Regions from separate parts of the Homo sapiens genome. Here region 1 is linked to region 2. The links come from fine-mapping of genetic effects on gene expression. Tissue or cell type: whole blood. Region 2 holds a variant in brackets; the other region holds the start of a gene. All regions are shown on one strand. Distances are between the middles of the regions.

Evidence for each region. PIP is the estimated chance that this variant, and not a neighbour inherited with it, causes the effect.
Region 1: ELL starts here. The variant in region 2 is fine-mapped to the expression of ELL in whole blood (TOPMed, PIP above 0.99).

What each region holds. Positions count from the first base shown.
Region 1 is chr19:18,518,684-18,526,766 of GRCh38, forward strand. ELL (elongation factor for RNA polymerase II) reads right to left here and starts at 3,387. Exons shown (of 12, transcript NM_006532.4): 1 at 3,238-3,387. The coding sequence starts at 3,372. RefSeq lists silencers at 2,071-2,120, 2,851-3,160 and enhancers at 2,376-2,891, 2,892-3,407, 3,551-3,880.
Region 2 is chr19:18,443,787-18,451,872 of GRCh38, forward strand. ELL (elongation factor for RNA polymerase II) reads right to left here. Exons shown (of 12, transcript NM_006532.4): 7 at 7,766-7,862; 8 at 6,691-7,189; 9 at 2,962-3,028; 10 at 2,523-2,694; 11 at 1,438-1,482; 12 at 1-1,082. The coding sequence ends at 966. Among named protein-coding and RNA genes, the nearest start is that of ISYNA1, 9.7 kb to the left of the region's middle. RefSeq lists enhancers at 2,535-3,063, 6,410-7,216, 7,217-8,023. The variant AG/A (reference allele first, on the strand shown) is at 4,495.

The DNA of each region.
Region 1 (8,083 bases), 75 kb after region 2:
GGTAGGCTGAGGCAGGAGAATCACTTGAACCCGGGAGGCGGAGGTTGCAGTGAGCTGAGATCACGCCAGCGCAATCCAGCTTGGGCGACAGGGCAAGACCCTGTCTCAAAAAAAAAAAAGGAAAGAAAAACTGCACAAAGTCCAAGGTAGAGTGAGAAGGCCAGCAGCTATGTGTACTGCTGCGCCTTTACCTTCCACCACGCTGCTCCAGCTGGCTACCAGGTCAACACCAGAGCCCTCTGGGGAGAGAAAACAGGAGGGCTTCTACCTGGGCTGTTCCCAGAGCTAGGATTACCTGCTCCTGGGAGCCACAGAGAAAGTTCCACAGCAAGTTCCTTTCTAGCCCCTGCCACACCTGAATTTGTAAAAGCCTCTTCACAATTAAAAACTAAAAATAGGCCGGGCACGGTTGGTCACGCCTGTAATCCCAGCACTTTGGGAGGCCGAGGTGGGCAGATCACAAAGTCAGGAGATCGAAACCATCCTGGCTAACACGAAAAATCGCACCACTGCACTCCAGCCTGGACAACAGAGCAAGACTCCGTCTCAAAAAAAAAAAAAAGAAATTAAAAATAAAAGCCCTCTCCACAAGTTGCAATTGGCAAACTATATAACCACAGCATCGAGGAATACAAAACTCTGGCTTCTGGGTGATAGAGTTGTCCACATGAGAGTTTGTCCATAACCAGTATATTTCTCTGGTTACACAATCAAGTTCTTCAAGCCACCTTCCTCAAGCTCACTACCCAAAACCACAGAGAGCACGGAGCTGCCGTGCCTTAGAAAAGTCCATCCACTATACTGCCCCATGGGCAAGATTAAATTCGAAAGTAGCCAAGCTGGCTGGGAGCAGTGGCTCATGCCTGTAGTCCCAGCACTTTTAGAGGCTGAGAAGGACGGATCACTGGAGGTCAGGAGTTCAAGACCAGCCTGGCCAACATGGCAAAACCCTGTCTCTACTAAAAATACAAAAATTAGCCGGGTGTGGTGGCACGTGCCTGTAGTCCCAGCTACTCGGGAGGCTGAGGCAGGAGAATCGCTTGAACCCGGGAGGCAGAAGCTGCAGTGAGCCGGGATCGCGCCACCTCAATGAAGCCTGGGCAGCAGAGTGAAACTCCATCTCAAAAAAAAAAAAAAAAAAGAAAGAAAGAAAGAAAGAAAGTGGCCAAGCCACTTAAATTACCAGACAGCTTTTTGAGAAAAATCCAAGTTTGAATCACCCCAAAATATAATCCAGCCAGCCAAGTTGCTCTGGATGGCTTGGAAAAGTTCTTCTAGGAAGCCCCTCCTGGCTGGTCAACACACTGCCCTACACAGCTGGGCTCCGAGCCAGAGGAGTTTAACAGTCCACAGTTACCTTCACCCTAACATGAGGAAGATCCAGCTTAGAGAGGGGATGTAACCAATACCCTAAAGTAAAAATAGCAGTGTGACAGCATGAGGTGGACACACAGGCGGACCTTCTGGACTGAAAAGCAAGCGAGGGCAGCATCAGAGAGAAGGCGGAGCTCCTGGTTCCTAAAGCACAGAAGACAGTGGTGACCAGGTACCAAGTCCATCGTAGTTATATGACTCACGAGCTCTCCCCCAGCTGTTTCTAGGAAAGCCTGCCTTCCTGCAGGACAAGTCAGAATCGCTCAGGGAAAAAGACCCAGGGCCAGAATTCTACCAGGAAGAGAGGCTCTGGCTGGTCATGGGCCAGCAGCTGCTGTCGCTGCCACTGTCTCCTCCTCACCTGCAGGGGCGCCTTAGCCTCATCTTGGGGAGTCTTTTTGACAAGGTGCGAACTTGCTCTTTCAAAAAAAAATGAAATCCTCATTCCATGAAGGGGAAAACTGCGACACCGGGACAGGGAGGAAATTGCCCAAAGACATGGGAAGAAGCACGGAAGGGGTGGGCACCGGGAGAGTGGTGGAAACGAAACAGGGGGAAGAAATTCTCGGCTTAGCTAATGGAGCTGAACAAGTTCGGGGCAGGAAGAAAGCCACATTCCTTCCTAGTTAGTCTCCCTCCTCCCCCGCCCGCGGCACCCCCCCACCCCCACCATCAACAGTATACACAAACACACACACACGCAGGGAGCAGGGCTCTCTGAGCCCGAGACTAGACCCACCCCCACTCCCTTTAGGGCAATGAAGCCCCCAATTTCCAGAAAAGGAGTTACAAGGTTCCTAAACCACTTCCCCTCGGGACCTGACCACTGGTCATCTGCAACTTCTGACCCAGCACAGACGGGGGGAGGGGGGGCCATGACACAAACAGAAATGAAAAAGGCAGGTTTCTGACCACGGCCCCAGATGCGCCCCAAAGTCAGGCCCAAGAGAACATACACAGCAGCCTCCCCTCCCCACCACCAGCCAGGTGGCAGAACCGAAACGCCTCAAACTTCCCCCAGATGGGCCCAAATCGGCCTCTGAGAAGTTCCAGAGTCAGCGGCCAGATGTGGTAGCCAGAGCTTCCTCCTGGGTGGCAGGGATCCCCTACATGTGCCCTGAGGATAACATCACAGCCGCCCCCAACACTTCCACTCTCCAAGGAACCTCTCTCCGGAGAGAGAGGGTCACCTGGGGGTAAGGGGAGCAGAAAGCTGGGACAAGCTGTCAGTTTCTGCCCAAACTCCCCGTCCCAAGAACCAAAGTGGCCCAACCTGAGTGGCTTCATCGGAACGCGTCAAAGCCAGCCCCCAGCTGCAAAGCCTTCCACCCAGACAGAACAGACCCCCACAAGTGCCTCGCTGACCACCCCCTGCCGGGCACCCAGACGATCGCTGCTTCCCAGGAGGACAGACACAGTCACCCCCACCAACGGCGCTGCCCCGGCCCCAGATGGAAAAGCCCCCAGCTTCCCCCTATCACGGTGCCGGGACCGTGCGGCCCACCGCCTCCTCGCCCCGCCGCCAGGTGCGCAAACTGGACCCTGCCCAGGTGCCCAGCAGGCCAGAAAGGCCCCGGACGCCGCCAGGTGCCGACACCGACGCCCCCCGGGCCCGGCGCGCGAGTCTGGGCCCCTCAGCAGCCCCGGGCCACCCGCCTGTATTGCCTCCTAGTGCTGAGAAGGAACGCGGTTCTCAGCGCTCCAGGCCGGACTGGCGCCCACTCCGCGCCCCGCCGGCCCAGGGACCCGCGAGCAGCACCACAGACCTAGCGTCTCCGAGCCCGGACGCCTCAGTGAGGGGAGCGCGAGGCCGGCCCGCGTCCGGACGTTCCCCACTGGCGCGCCGGGCGCCATGCCACTCACCTGTCTGGCGCGGTAGCTCTCGAAGGCCCTCAGGGCACTGTCGGTGAGCTTCACGTGGAACACCGACACCTTGCTGCCGTCGCTAACCCGCCCGCACGACAGCCCGTAGCTCCTATCCTCCTTCAGCGCCGCCATCTTGCGACCATCTCTCCCCCGCGCCCCCTTCCCGGCTCCAGCGCCGCCACGCCGGCCACGCCCCGCCCCGCCGCCCGCTGACGCGCTGCATTATTCATGAGACGCGGCTGGCCACGCCCCCCGAGTCCGACCAAACCAACAGTCGCCGCCACACCGGCAGGCAGCGCACTACATTATTCAGGAGACGCGCCTGGCCACGCCCCATGAGGGCCCCACAAGGCCCACAGTCAACGCCCCAAGTTGTTGCATATTCATAAGGCACTTATGGCCCCGCCTCTTCAGGCCCTAGGGGTGGCCACTTCCGTGAACGAACTCCGCCTCAACACGCGCACCCCTCCAGGCCCCGCCTCCATAGTATTATACATAACCCTGACTCAGCCAGCCAGGCGCGTCAAAGCCCCGCCCCTACAGCCGCTGACGTGATGCATTATTTATGAGATCTCTACAGTCTTCCGTCTTTGGCTTCTGTGGAAAGCCGCAGAGAGGGCGTGGAGGGGCGGAGCCGGCTCGAAACACGTGGGTGGGTAGGCCCCGCCGCGGGCCGGGAGGGTGGGCGTGGCTATGTAAACGGAGCGCGCGCGTTGGACGCTGGGTTGGACACATAAGGCATCCCTTAGGCGGGGTGGATGGGACTTCCACCCAGGGAAGGTGCTGGACCGGTAGGTGGAAGAGGAGCTGGTAAACTTTTTCTTATGAGATGAGTACTTTTAATAGGATAAAATCCTACATCCCCACAGTCCCTGAGCGATGGTGCAGTCCAGCTTCATTTTCCTATTTTAATTTTTTTTTGAGGGGTCTTGCTGTGTTGCCCAGGCTGGAGTGCAATGGCGCCATCATGGCTCACTGCACCCTCGACCTCCTGAACTCAAACTGATCCTCCTTGTCTGGGTCTGCTGAAATGCTAGGATTACAGGAGTGAGCCACCAAGCCCAGACTTCCATTTTCTTTTCTTTTCTTTTTTTTTTTTTTTGAGACGGAGTCTTGCTCATCAGCCCAGACTGGAGAACAGTGGCGCTATCTCGGCTCAATGCAACCATCGTCTCCTGAATTCAAGCGATTCTCCTGTCTCAGCCTCTCGAGTAGCTGGGATTACAGGCGCCCGCCATCATGCCCAGCTAATTTTTGTATTTTAGTAGAGATGGGGTTTCACCATGTTGACCAGGCTGGTCTTGAACTCCTGACCTCAGGTGATCCGCGCGCCTCGCCCTCCCAAAGTGCTAGGATTACAGGCGTGAGCCACCTCCCCCAGTTTTTGTTTGTTTGTTTGTTTTTAGACAGAGTTTCGATTTCCTTGCCCAGGCTGGAGTGCAGTGGTGTGATCTCGGCTCACTGCAACCACCGCCTCCTGGATTCAAGCAATTCTCCTGCCTCAGCCTCCCGAGTAGTAGCTGGGACTGCAGGCGCCCATCACAACGCCCAGCTAATTTTTTGTATTTTTAGTAGAGACGGGATTTCACCATGTTAGTCAGGCTGGTCTGGAACTCCTGACCTCAAGTGATGCACCCACCTCGGCCTCCCAAAGTGCTGGGATTACAAGCATGAGCCACTGTGCCCGGCCAGCCTTCCATTTTCTAAAAAGCAACTTCATTGAGTCACATTTTACATATAAAATATATTCCCAATGCTGTGTAGCTGTCACCACTATCTAATTTCCGAGATTTTTTTTTCTTTTTCTTTGAGACAGAGTTTCACTCTTGTTGCCCAACCTGGAGTGCAACGGTGCCATCTCAGCTCGTTGCAACCTCCGCCTCCCAGGTTCAAGCGATTCTCCTGCCTCAGCCTCCCGAGTAGCTGGGATTACAGATGCCCACCACCACGCCCAGCTAATTTTTGTATTTTCAGTAGAGACGGGGTTTCACCATATTGATCAGGTCTCTAACTCCCAACCTCAGGTGATCCGCCTGCCTAGGGCTACCAAAGTGCTGGGACTACAGGCGTGAGCCACTGCGCCTGGCCAAGGGAGGAGCTGGCTTGGAGGGCCAACCAGCTCGCTCTGTGATCTTGTGAAAGGCACCTCCTGCTTCTGAGCCTCTGTGGATTCACTTCGGAAACAGGAAACAGCAATAAGAGCAGTACTCAGGACCTAGCAAGGTGTCTCACACCTGAAATCCCAGCATTTTGGGATGCCATGACGGGAGGATCGCTTGCACCCAAGGGCTTGAGACCAGCCTGGGTAACAGGGCTAAGCCCCCTCTCTACAAAAAAATTTAAAAAATTAAAAAAATTAGCCGGGCATGGTGGAGCACCCCTGTGGTCCCAGCTACTCCGGAGGCTGACATGGGAGGCTCTCTCAAGCCCATGGGAGGTTGAGGCTGTAGTGAACTATGTTCGCACCACTATATTCCAGCACTCCAGCCTGAGTGACAGAGTAAGACCCTGTCTCCAAAAAAAAAAAAAAAAAAAAAAAAAAAAAGCCAGGCCCCCAGTGGCTCACGCCTGTAATCCCAGCACTTTTGAAGGCCGAGGGGGCTGGATCATGAGGTCAGGAGTTCGAGACCACCACGACCAACATGGTGAAACCCCGTCTCTGCTAAAAACACTAAAATTAGCCAGGCATGGTGGCACACGCCTGTAATCCCAGCTACTCAGAAGGCTGAGGCAGGAGAATAGCTTGGACCCAGGAAGCAGAGCTTGCAGTGAGCCGAGATCGTGCCACTGCACTCCAGCCTGGGTGACAGAGCAAGACTCGGTCCCAAAAAAAAAAAGTATTTCTCCACGTCTACTTTACATTTGATTCCCCAGTGGATCTCAATGAGACCCCAGGAAAAATAAGGCAGAACTTATCAGACGTTGGCATGCTCTGCAGAAGTTTCTTTTTTTTTTTTTTTTTTGAGACGGAGTCTCACTCTGTCGCCCAGGCTGGAGTGCAGTGGCACAATCTCGGGTTCACTGCAGCCTCCGCCTCCTGGGTCCAAGCGATTCTCCTGCCTCAGCCGCCCGAGTAGCTCGGGTTACAGGCACGTGCCACCACGCCTGGCTAATTTTTTGTATATTTAGTAGACGGGGTTTCACCGTGTTAGCCAGGATGGTCTCGATCTCCTGACCTCATGATCCGATGATCCGCCTGCCTCAGCCTCCCAAAGTGCTGGGATTACAGGCGTGAGCCACCATGCCTGGCCTTTTTTTTTTTTTTTTTTTTTGGAGACAAGTTCTCACTCTGTCACCCAGGCTGGAGTGCAGTGGCATGATCTCGGCTCACTGCAGCCTCCAACTCCTGGGCTCAACCCATCCTCCCACCTCAGCCTCCCAAGTAGCTGAAATTACAGGCATGCTCCACCATACTGGGCCAATCTTTTGTATTTTTTGAAGAGATGAGATTTTTCCATGTTGCCCAGGCTGGTCTCTAACTCCTGGGTTCAAAAGATCCTGTCGCCTAGCCTCCCAAAGTGCTAGGAAGTGCTAGGATTATAGGCCATAAGCCACTGCACCTGGCCGTCTGCAGACATTTTTGTTTCTTTGTTTTGAGACGGAGTTTTGCTCTTGTTGCCCAGGCTGGAGTGCAGTGGCACGATCTCGGCTCACTGCAACCTCTGCCTCCTGGTTCAAGTGATTCTCCTGCCTCAGCCTCCTGAGTAGCTGGGATTACAGGCACACGCCACCACACCCAGCTAATTTTGTATTTTTAGTAGAGACGGGATTTCACCATGTAGGTCTCGAACTCCTGACCTCAAGTGATCCACCCGCCTCGGCCTCCCAAAGTGGTGGGATTACAGGCGTGAGCCACCGTGTCCGGCTTTGTCTGCAGAAATTTTTAAGAACTAGGTTACCCATGGCCAGGCATGGTGGCTCACGCCTGTAATCTCAGCACTTTGGGAGGCCGAGGCGGGTGGATCACTTGAGGTCAGGAGATCGAAACCATCCTGGCTAACACAGTGAAACCCCGTCTCTACTAAAAATACAAAAAAATTAGCCAGGCATTGTGGCAGGCGCCTGTAGGCCCAGCTACTCCGGAGGCTGAGGCAGGAGAATGGCGTGAACCTGGGAGGCGGAGTTTGCAGTGAGCCGAGATCGCGCCACTGCACTCCAGCCTGGGTGACACAGCGAGACTCCATCTCAAAAAAAAAAAAAAAGGAACTAGGTCACCCACAATATTGCAAGTGAGTTGATCACCCTGGGGTGCCCCCCGGACACATAGTCCACCTGGTGAGCTCTCTGATGGAAGCAGTGACCCCACCCTGCCCCTTACCCCGTGTGTGGTCTTGGACACATCTTGCCATCTCTGTTCCTCAGTTTGCTCATCCAGAAAACAGGGAGTGTAACAGCATCTACCTGATTCTTCTGTGACAATGACATGAGACAAGGACATGTGTAGCTCGCCCTGTTCAAGTGTTCCAGAATTGTGAGCTCGCGTACACATACAAAATTCCTTCCGCAGTGCTCACTTCCAATTCACAGCCCATGGCAAGTCGGGTAAGGCCCTCCTGAGTCACTGCTCAAGGCCAGGTATATGGGAGGTGTTAGTAAATGCTTTGGTATGAAAGACAAAGCCATCCCCGTCGTTCTCCAAAGGTACCACACATGGTCCAGCTGGCATACCTTGCACAGCTATGCCATCCACAAGGGATACCCTTCACCACCCATTAAAGGCATCCCATGCCTTCAACACAACTGCAGCGTCACACGTGCTGGATGCTCCAGCTCACCACCCACAACCAGCTCAGACCTTTGAGGATGAAGTGGCCGAGTGAATAACCACATTCAATTTCACACT
Region 2 (8,086 bases):
TCCCTGAGTGCAAACCTTGGCGGTGGCTCTGCTAAGACGACCCCAGGACCCACAAGTGGACAGAGGGACGGAGGGAGGCCAGCAGCATCGAGACCACAAGGTCTCAACAGTGTGGAATGAGCAGCAGCAGCAACAAATGGGAAACCGAGGACATCGCAAAGAAAAGTCTGACGCCGCTGCGGCCGAGTCTCAACTTGGAGCACAGAAACACAGTGGCCCCCGACAGCTGAGGGCCTGAAATAGCAGGGCAGGCCTGGGGGCGCTGAAAGCCCTCTGCCCCCTTGGCTCTGAGCAGCTGTCTGGGGGCACCAGCTGGAGTTCTCAAAATAGCCACCTGGGCCACCCTGTTTGCTTGCTGGAGCAGAGACCCTGCCCAAGGAGGAGAGGCTGGGGAAAGGGGTGCCTAAACGTAGAGCCAGAGACCAGCAGAGGCCACCTGCCCATTCCCCACGCCCTCAGAACGCAGCTGCACCTTTCGACGACCTCTGTAATACTGCAGGCAGGACCCAGGGCAGCGGCTAGACCCTGGGTGTCCGAGGAGAGGGAGGCACAGGTTTAGAAAAAAGATTTTGCTTCTCTTTTGTACAAAAATAGACTCAAGTCTCATTAGCAGTAGCTAAAAGTGGCTGTCTTTGTATAAAACTAGAAAAGGCAGGCGCGCCACCCCAAGGGCCTAGGAGTCTTCTGGCGAGACAGGAGGCTGAACCCCGGAGGCTGCAGCCAGGGAGGAGGCAGTGGGCTTCCTGGGGAGCCCATCATAAGCAGGGACTGCTCAGGAAGCGCAGGGAGGGCCGAGGTGGGCTTGCAGCCACCCGCCAGGGCCAGACGTCTGCAGGGGCTGCCCTGAAAGCCGGCGGTGCTGGCTCAGATGAGCATCTTCCTCGGGTTTATTTTTTTAAATAAATCCTCTCTCACCGCCTTTTGCTCCCCCGACCCTCCCAGATCCCCGCCATCGGGGAGGGCGGCTAGGGCCAAGCCTGCAGCTGCCGCTGGTCGTACTCGGCGATGAGCCTCTTGATGTGGGCCAGCTTGCTGTGCAGGTACTCGCAGCGGTGCTTCTCCTGGCTGTAGTTGGTGTTGGTCTGTGGGACAGCACAGTCATGCTCAGGACAGAGCCGCCCTGGGTGCTGCTCCCCGCTGTAAGCAGGCCAGTGTCCCCCCCAAACCAAAAACCTGGGCTTGGTGCCCAGCAAGGAGGGTTGTGGTCCAAGGGCAGAGTGGGAGTTGGTCCCCCGCACCTCCACAGCTTGTGTGGCTGGGCCAGGATGCCACAGCTGAAGACTTAGCTGGGGGTGGTGGGGCAACTTTGGCCTCAGACTCAAAGGCTCTTCCCCCACACCTTGGAAGTAGCGGGCAGGGAGGCTGCCCCGGGCCCACCCTCCTCCCTCCAGCTCCCATGGCTCACTTGGAGCCCACCCCAACACAAGAGACACTCACCTTTTTGATTTTTCGATATTCCTGCAAAATCTGCCCTCGAGTAGTCTAGAAGAAAAACAAAATTTTGAGAAAACAGAATGTGTCCCCGCCTACAGGAAACCCAAATTGAGTGGTCCCAGGTGCTCTGAGAAGGGGGCATGGGAGGGTGGGGCAGCCTCAAGGACAAGGCCAAGTAACACCCCAGGGGCCCACAGCGGCTGTAGCTCCGGAGTGGGTGGGGCATGAGGGAAAGGCTGCCGGGTCCCCTGGAGGCAATAGCAGGTGGGGCACTGCTGTTGTGGGGGCGTGGCAGGACAAGGAAGTATCCATGTCGTGGGGGGGTGGGGAGGGGGTGGGGGGGTGCAGCAAAGAGGGAGGGAAGGGGAAGGAGAGATGCCCCAAGAACCCGTGGCTCGCAGCCCCTAGAACCCCATCATGAGTCGTCGTCTTTGGAAGGCAAAGGGGCCTTGGCCAGGAGAGACCCCGGCATCTGATTAATCAGGGCCCAGCCCTGTAGTCAGGTCACCAGTTCCGAAAGGTGGCAGGTGGGGCGGCTACGTCCAAGGCTAGGCTAAGGGTGGAGACTCTCTGTATACACAGGGCAGCTGAATGAGCTGTGAGCTCAAGCCAGGGGACCACAGGAGTCCTGATTCCCAGGACCACAGGGACCTGTCACCTCCCCCTGCTATAGTTGTGGCAGCATGGATGGGCCCCAGGGTGCTGGACAGAGCTCAGCTGCGGAGTCTCCTGAGGGTTTGGCACAGGTACCAAGAGCCCTGTGTCCTAGGCTGTGAGAGGACCCCAGGCGCTCAAACATGTGGGGATCCATGTACCCCGGCTCGCCCCCATCCAAGGAGGTGGGTCACAGCTGTCCCCACTGCAAAGGAGGCTGACAAGCTGGGCTGCCTTCAAGGACTCCCACAACAGGACCCCAGGGCCGGGCCAGAACCATGGGGTTGCTGCATGGAGTGCACCAGGGGGAGAAGCGCTGCCTGGGGAAGGGCCAGACTCTGGGGCCACCAAGCTCGTGGTGGCGATGGTGCGCGCCCAAGTGGGCCCTGGCTCCCGCCAGAGCCAGGGCACAGTAGGCAGCGGGGGGGCTCTACCTCATACTCCTCGGAGCCCTGGGAGAGCTGCCGGAGCTGGGCGTCGAGCTGGGTGAACCGCCGCGTGATGCGCTCAATGCGGGCGTGCAGGTCGCGGTACTCGCTGTACTCGGCATTGAAGTCGTTCTTGTAGCTCTGGCGCTGCTCCGAAGAGGAGATGGCTGCGTACTTCCTGAAACAGGAGAGAGGGGCCACTGAGTGGAGGCTGGAAGGACCCAGCCCCACCCAGGAAGTGGCCATCCTGGCTCCACCGGCGGCCTGGCCTCTCGGGTGATTCCCTGGATTATGAGGGGGCCTGGCCCAGAAGAGGCTGCTATGTTTGGAATTCACATACTCAGACTTGCAGTGGCTTCTACCTCTGATAACCTGCAGTGCTGGGGGAGGGGGTCTGAACCCAGAAAAGGGAGGCCTGGCCTGCAGGGCCCAGACAAACACTCACAGCAAGTAGTCAGGCGTCTCCGACGTGGACGTGGGAACACTGGAAACGCTGCAGGTTCCGTTTAAACCTACGAGAGCAAACACATACCTCCTGAGTCTGCGCCCATGGCACCGGTCGGCAGGAAGCACGCCAGGATGGGGACATGCATGAAAACTGTACACTTTGCTGCTGGAGGGACATAGAGGGATAGCAGAGGGGATGACTGTGTGGCAGGTGCAAGGGCTGAGCCCCTCGCACCTGGCAACTGTGGGCTGCTGGACCTGGGCGTGCCCTCCAGGTGGTGAGCAGAGCTCAGCGTGCACCTGCGTGTCCAGGGCAAAGCCCTGCAGGACACAGAGCACCCAGGCATCACCACAGTCACATTCTTGGCAAACAGCGGACAGGTCAGGGAACTGCAGGGCCAAAGCCTGCACAACCGGTCAGAGCTTCCCCCAGGCCAGGCCCTTGCTGCCTCCACTGACTGCATGTCAAAGGTCACTAAGCTGAAAACAAATGACCCCTGGCTTGACCTGAGTCTCTGGGGCATCCCAGTCTCTGGCCAGACAGGACAAAGACAAGATGGCCAGCAGGGCCTGCATCTCTTGCTGCTGACAAAGTTCCACGCCCTTGGTCTGTGCCCCACCCAGATCATCCCGTCCTTTCCACTAGACACTGAATTGCACGCTCCACAAGGCAGCTCCAGGACAGGGCCAGCCAGAGGAGCCCATGGGCCACCCCAATCGGCCATCCATGAGCAAAGTGTCCATGATGACGCTCAGCCCTTCGCCCCTTCAGGGGCCTGCCCAAAGCAGCACAGCTGATGGCTAGATGGCACCCCAGGCAGCTGTCCTGCTCCTGAGCCATGTGGTGGGGTGCCCCGGCCACATAAGACAACACCCCTGAGGGTCTGGAAATCAGGGAGGGGAGGGGCAGGAAGACTGAAGTGCGCGTCGCCTAAGACCACAACTACAATTTAGTGCGTTTTCTAGACCTTCTTGCAGTGGCTTTCTTTCCGATACAGAAATGATTTTATCAATTTCAGATGTATCCTCAATACACTTTTTTTTTTTTTTTAGAGACAGGGTCTTGCTCTGCCACCCAGGCTGGAGTTGCAATGGTGCGATCATGGCTCACTACAACCTTGAACTCCTGGGCTCAAGTGATCCTCTTGCCTCAGCCTCCCAAGTAGGTGAGACTACAGGCATATGCCACCATGCCCAGCTAATTACAAAATTTTTTTGTAGAGATGGGGTCTCACTGTGTTGCCCAGGCTGGTCTGAAACTCCTGACCTCAAGCAATCCTCCTGAACTGGCCTTTCAAAGCGTTGGGATTAAAGGCATGAACCACCACACCTGGCGAATTTTTTTTTTTTTTTTTTACTTTTTAGTAGAGATGAGGAGGCTTGCCTATATCGCCTAGGCTGGTCTTGAACTCCTGGACTTAAGTGATCCTCTTGACTTGGCCTCTCAACATGCTGGGATTATAGGCGGAACCACTGTGCCTGGCCCTAGTGCACATTTTCAGGGGCCCTCTGCACTATCCCCTGAGAGAGC[AG/A]GAGTCTGCGATCTCCAGTTTGCTGAGCCCTCTCTCTCAGTGTAACACACCTGGGCTGACCACAGCAGCTTCTCTGCTGCCAAATTCCCAAAAGTGGACGAAGCTCACTCCCCACAAAGTTTCTAACACTCCCCACTTTGGGCCAGACACTGTCTTCCATATCACCACCACCCCCACCTGGGTTGTCTTTAAGAGGCTGTGGCCTTCCCAGGGACGCAACTCAATGGGCATGTATTGAATGGGTCTGACCCTGGTCCGGGCCAGAAGGAAGTGAGAGGCAAGGCGCAGCTGCGAAGGCCAAGCCCATGCTCCCGCCACGCAGTGGACTCCGTGGGTATTCTACAACAGATAACTGCCATGTGTCAGGCTGGTCAACATTACCTCATTTGACATGCCCCAAGATCTTCACCAGCTAGGATGACAAACGGGGAAATCAAGGCTCAGGGTCAGCTCAACCTGGTACCAGTGGGACCTTCAAAGTCCAGCCCTTGGCAAACCTCAGCGGCCCCCGACTCCTACTCAAGCTCTGGCTGTGTGGGGCCGGCCAAGCTGGTCCCTGCTTCGGGGCCCCGGAGAACACCCCCACAGCAGCTCCTCTCCCCATCTCTCCCCTTCACAGCCCACGTCTCTCTACTTGCTTGTCCTGGGCACGGGCACAGGACAGCTAAGACATGCCCTGCACAAGTACCACCTTCAGGACTCTGGTAACATGGACCACCAGCACCAGGCTCAGCTTCTGGTGCCTCCACTGTCCTTTTCTTGGTGCTTGGGACATCTACCCCTGCTTTGCATTTTCTCACCTGTGGTAGAGATGACAGCCCCTGGGCCGGGGATGAACTGCCTAGGGGCCAACACGCACCAGGCCAGACAGGAAACCACCTTGAGTCCCCAGGCCTGTCTTGGCACCTAGGCACTGGGCATCCAAGGAAGGGACACAGCCCAGAGTGGTCTGTGGACCCTGGAGCCGGGCCAAGGGTCTCAAATGGCAGATCCTGCCATTTGATCGTGGCCCAGGTCTGGCTGTGGGGTGTGGGTGTGTCCTGGGAATCAGGAGTCCTGCCCTGAGCATGGCCCTGGTCAGAGAGGCTGCCCAGGGAGTAAGGCCACCTTCTCCCCGTCGGCCCCCACATGCAGTCCCACGGGAGGTGGGAAGCCCAGCACGAGGCAGGGCTGACCCAACCCCGAAAGTCTTCCTTCCTATCCAGTAAGACCCAGCCACAGTTGTGAGGACCTGCTCTCCAGCCACAGCAGGGGACGGGGCATGGCCCTCTGAGCAACGCAAAGCTATAATGAAAGAAGGGCTCCCACCCTCATCCCAGGAATCCCCTGACTCAGCCTCCTCCCCAGAGACACAACCCAAAAGCACAGCAGGTGACACCACCTGGGCTGCCCTGGGCCAGCTGGCGCCGAGAGCGAAGTGGCCATCTGCAACTGGCCGCCATCGCCACATGGGACCACTGCAGCCCCTGTCGCACATGGTGGTGGAACAGCCGCTGCACGCTGGCCACTGCTTCTGCTGGTTCCTATAAATGAACAGCTGCGCAGGCTCATGGCCACGGTGCTAGGCGGGTGCTACTGCTGCTCAGTTTAGGTGCCTGGGCTGTGGTCTCGGAGCCGCCCAGGTCTCCTGGCTCCCCAATCCCAGCCTGCCAGGCCCTGTCCCCACAGCAGAAACCTACAGTCCACAACAGTCGCACGGTGCCTACAGAGGTCCAGGTGCTATCCCTCTCCCACCAGGATCTGCCCATCTGCACCTGTGCTGCCTCTCCCTGAATAGGGCTGGCTTGCCTGGGCCCCCACTGTCTTCCCTGAACCCCAGCAGACCTCAGCATGGCCCTGGCTCCTGGGGCTTCCCTGCAGTCAGAGCTGGGGCCTGGGCCCCATTCCTCTCTGCATGTTAGCCCCTTCTGCGGCCTCAGTTCCCCACAAGGCTCTGGGCCTCCGGCCCCCAGTGCTGGCCTGGCACATTGACTGCAAGTGGCACCGGGCACTCCAGACAGGCAGGGAGAGGACCAGGTGCAGGAACATAGGGTGCCAGGTGCCAGGCACACAGGGCAAATCTGATGGGGCCTGGGGCAACAGGGTCCCCTCCCCTGGCTTCTACAGCTTGAGCCCCCTCGACACCCCATGAGGGTGAGGCGGGTGTGGGGCCAGTACTTAGAGCCCCGGCAACGCCCTCCTGCCTGGGCACCTACCTGGGGTGTCTGCTGGGGCTCCGGGGGTGGCATGGGTGGCAGGTGCACAGTCTGGAAGCTGGGCCCGGGGCTTGTCCTCAGCCGCCCTCTCCTTGTCTTTGTGCTTCTTGGACTTCTTCTTGGGCTTGCTGCGCGAGGGGCTGCCGTGTGGCCTGCTGGGCTGGGCACAGTCCGTCAGCAGGGGCAGGCCGAGGCGCACAGTGGGGGCTGGGGCAGCCGCCTCTCCGTGCTCACAGTCTCGGCCGCTGTGGCCCAGGTCATTGCTGACATCGGCCAGGGGGTCGTGGGCCCTCGGGGGCTCCAGCCGCGGGGGCAGGTGAGTGCTGGAGCTGAGGGTGTCCGTGCTGGCTGGTGGGCCCGGGGTGGGCAGCAAGGCCTCACGGCCATTGGGCACGCCCAGCTTCCCGTTGACGGCAGGCTGAGCTCTCTGAGTGAAGTGCGATATCCGGGGTTTCTTGTTGGCTAGGGGGTCGATGAAATCAGGAGGCTGCAGCCGCTTCTGGAGAGGAGCAGAGATCATTTTAGAGGGGAGCACAGAGTGGCTGAGCAGCAACAGGCAATCCCCTGGCCTGGCTAGAAAACCCAACGCCGCCTGCAAGGCCCACGCTGGCCACATGGGGGCGCCCGAGCACCAAGTCAGGTCCCAGGTGCCGCTCAGGGTGGCCTCAGCTGGGGCCCATCAGCCTGCTGGGATCGATGCAGGGGGAGGGCAGGGCCCAGTGTGTGAGCGGGCCACCCCTGGGGACTGGTCTAAAGCGCTGCTGTGCTCAGCATGCTTCCCCAGTGATAACTGTGACACAGGAGCAGGAAGCCCAGGGTTGAGCCCACATCAGGGAGCCGCCCCCCGTCCCAGGTTCCGCACTGTGACACTGGGGTGCTGCGGCCACACTGGCAGGAATCTGCCCCCAACCCCAACCCGACAGCTTCCCCCTTGGTCCCTGGGCGGAGGGAGGCGGCTCAACTTGGAGCAGCTCATGCTCCAAAGAGCTGGTGAGGAAGGTGACAAGGGTTACTGATGCAGCACAGAGTGCCCTGCAGGTGCTTGGGACAGTCACCCCAGGCATGCCTCACTTACCTGTGGGGGCGAGGCCGAGCGCCCACGCTCGCCTGGGGGGCTGGAGGCAGCAGGGTCTCCAAGGAGGCTGCCAGTGCTCTGTGGCTGGCACAGCTTCCTGCGAAGGAGAGGCAGGGCTAGGTCAGAAGGTGCTGAGGGGGCCTAGGGGCCCCAGGCCTGTATCCACATGGGGGCCCGGTGGAGATGCCTCAAGGAAGGGACCCCCCTCCTCCCAAATCCAGAGCAGGGCCAAGGGGTCACAGGAGCCTGGGCCTGAGGCCATCCTGCCCCCGACTTCACCCAAAGGAGGACTTCCCCACTCACTGTCCCCCTGAGCCCAGA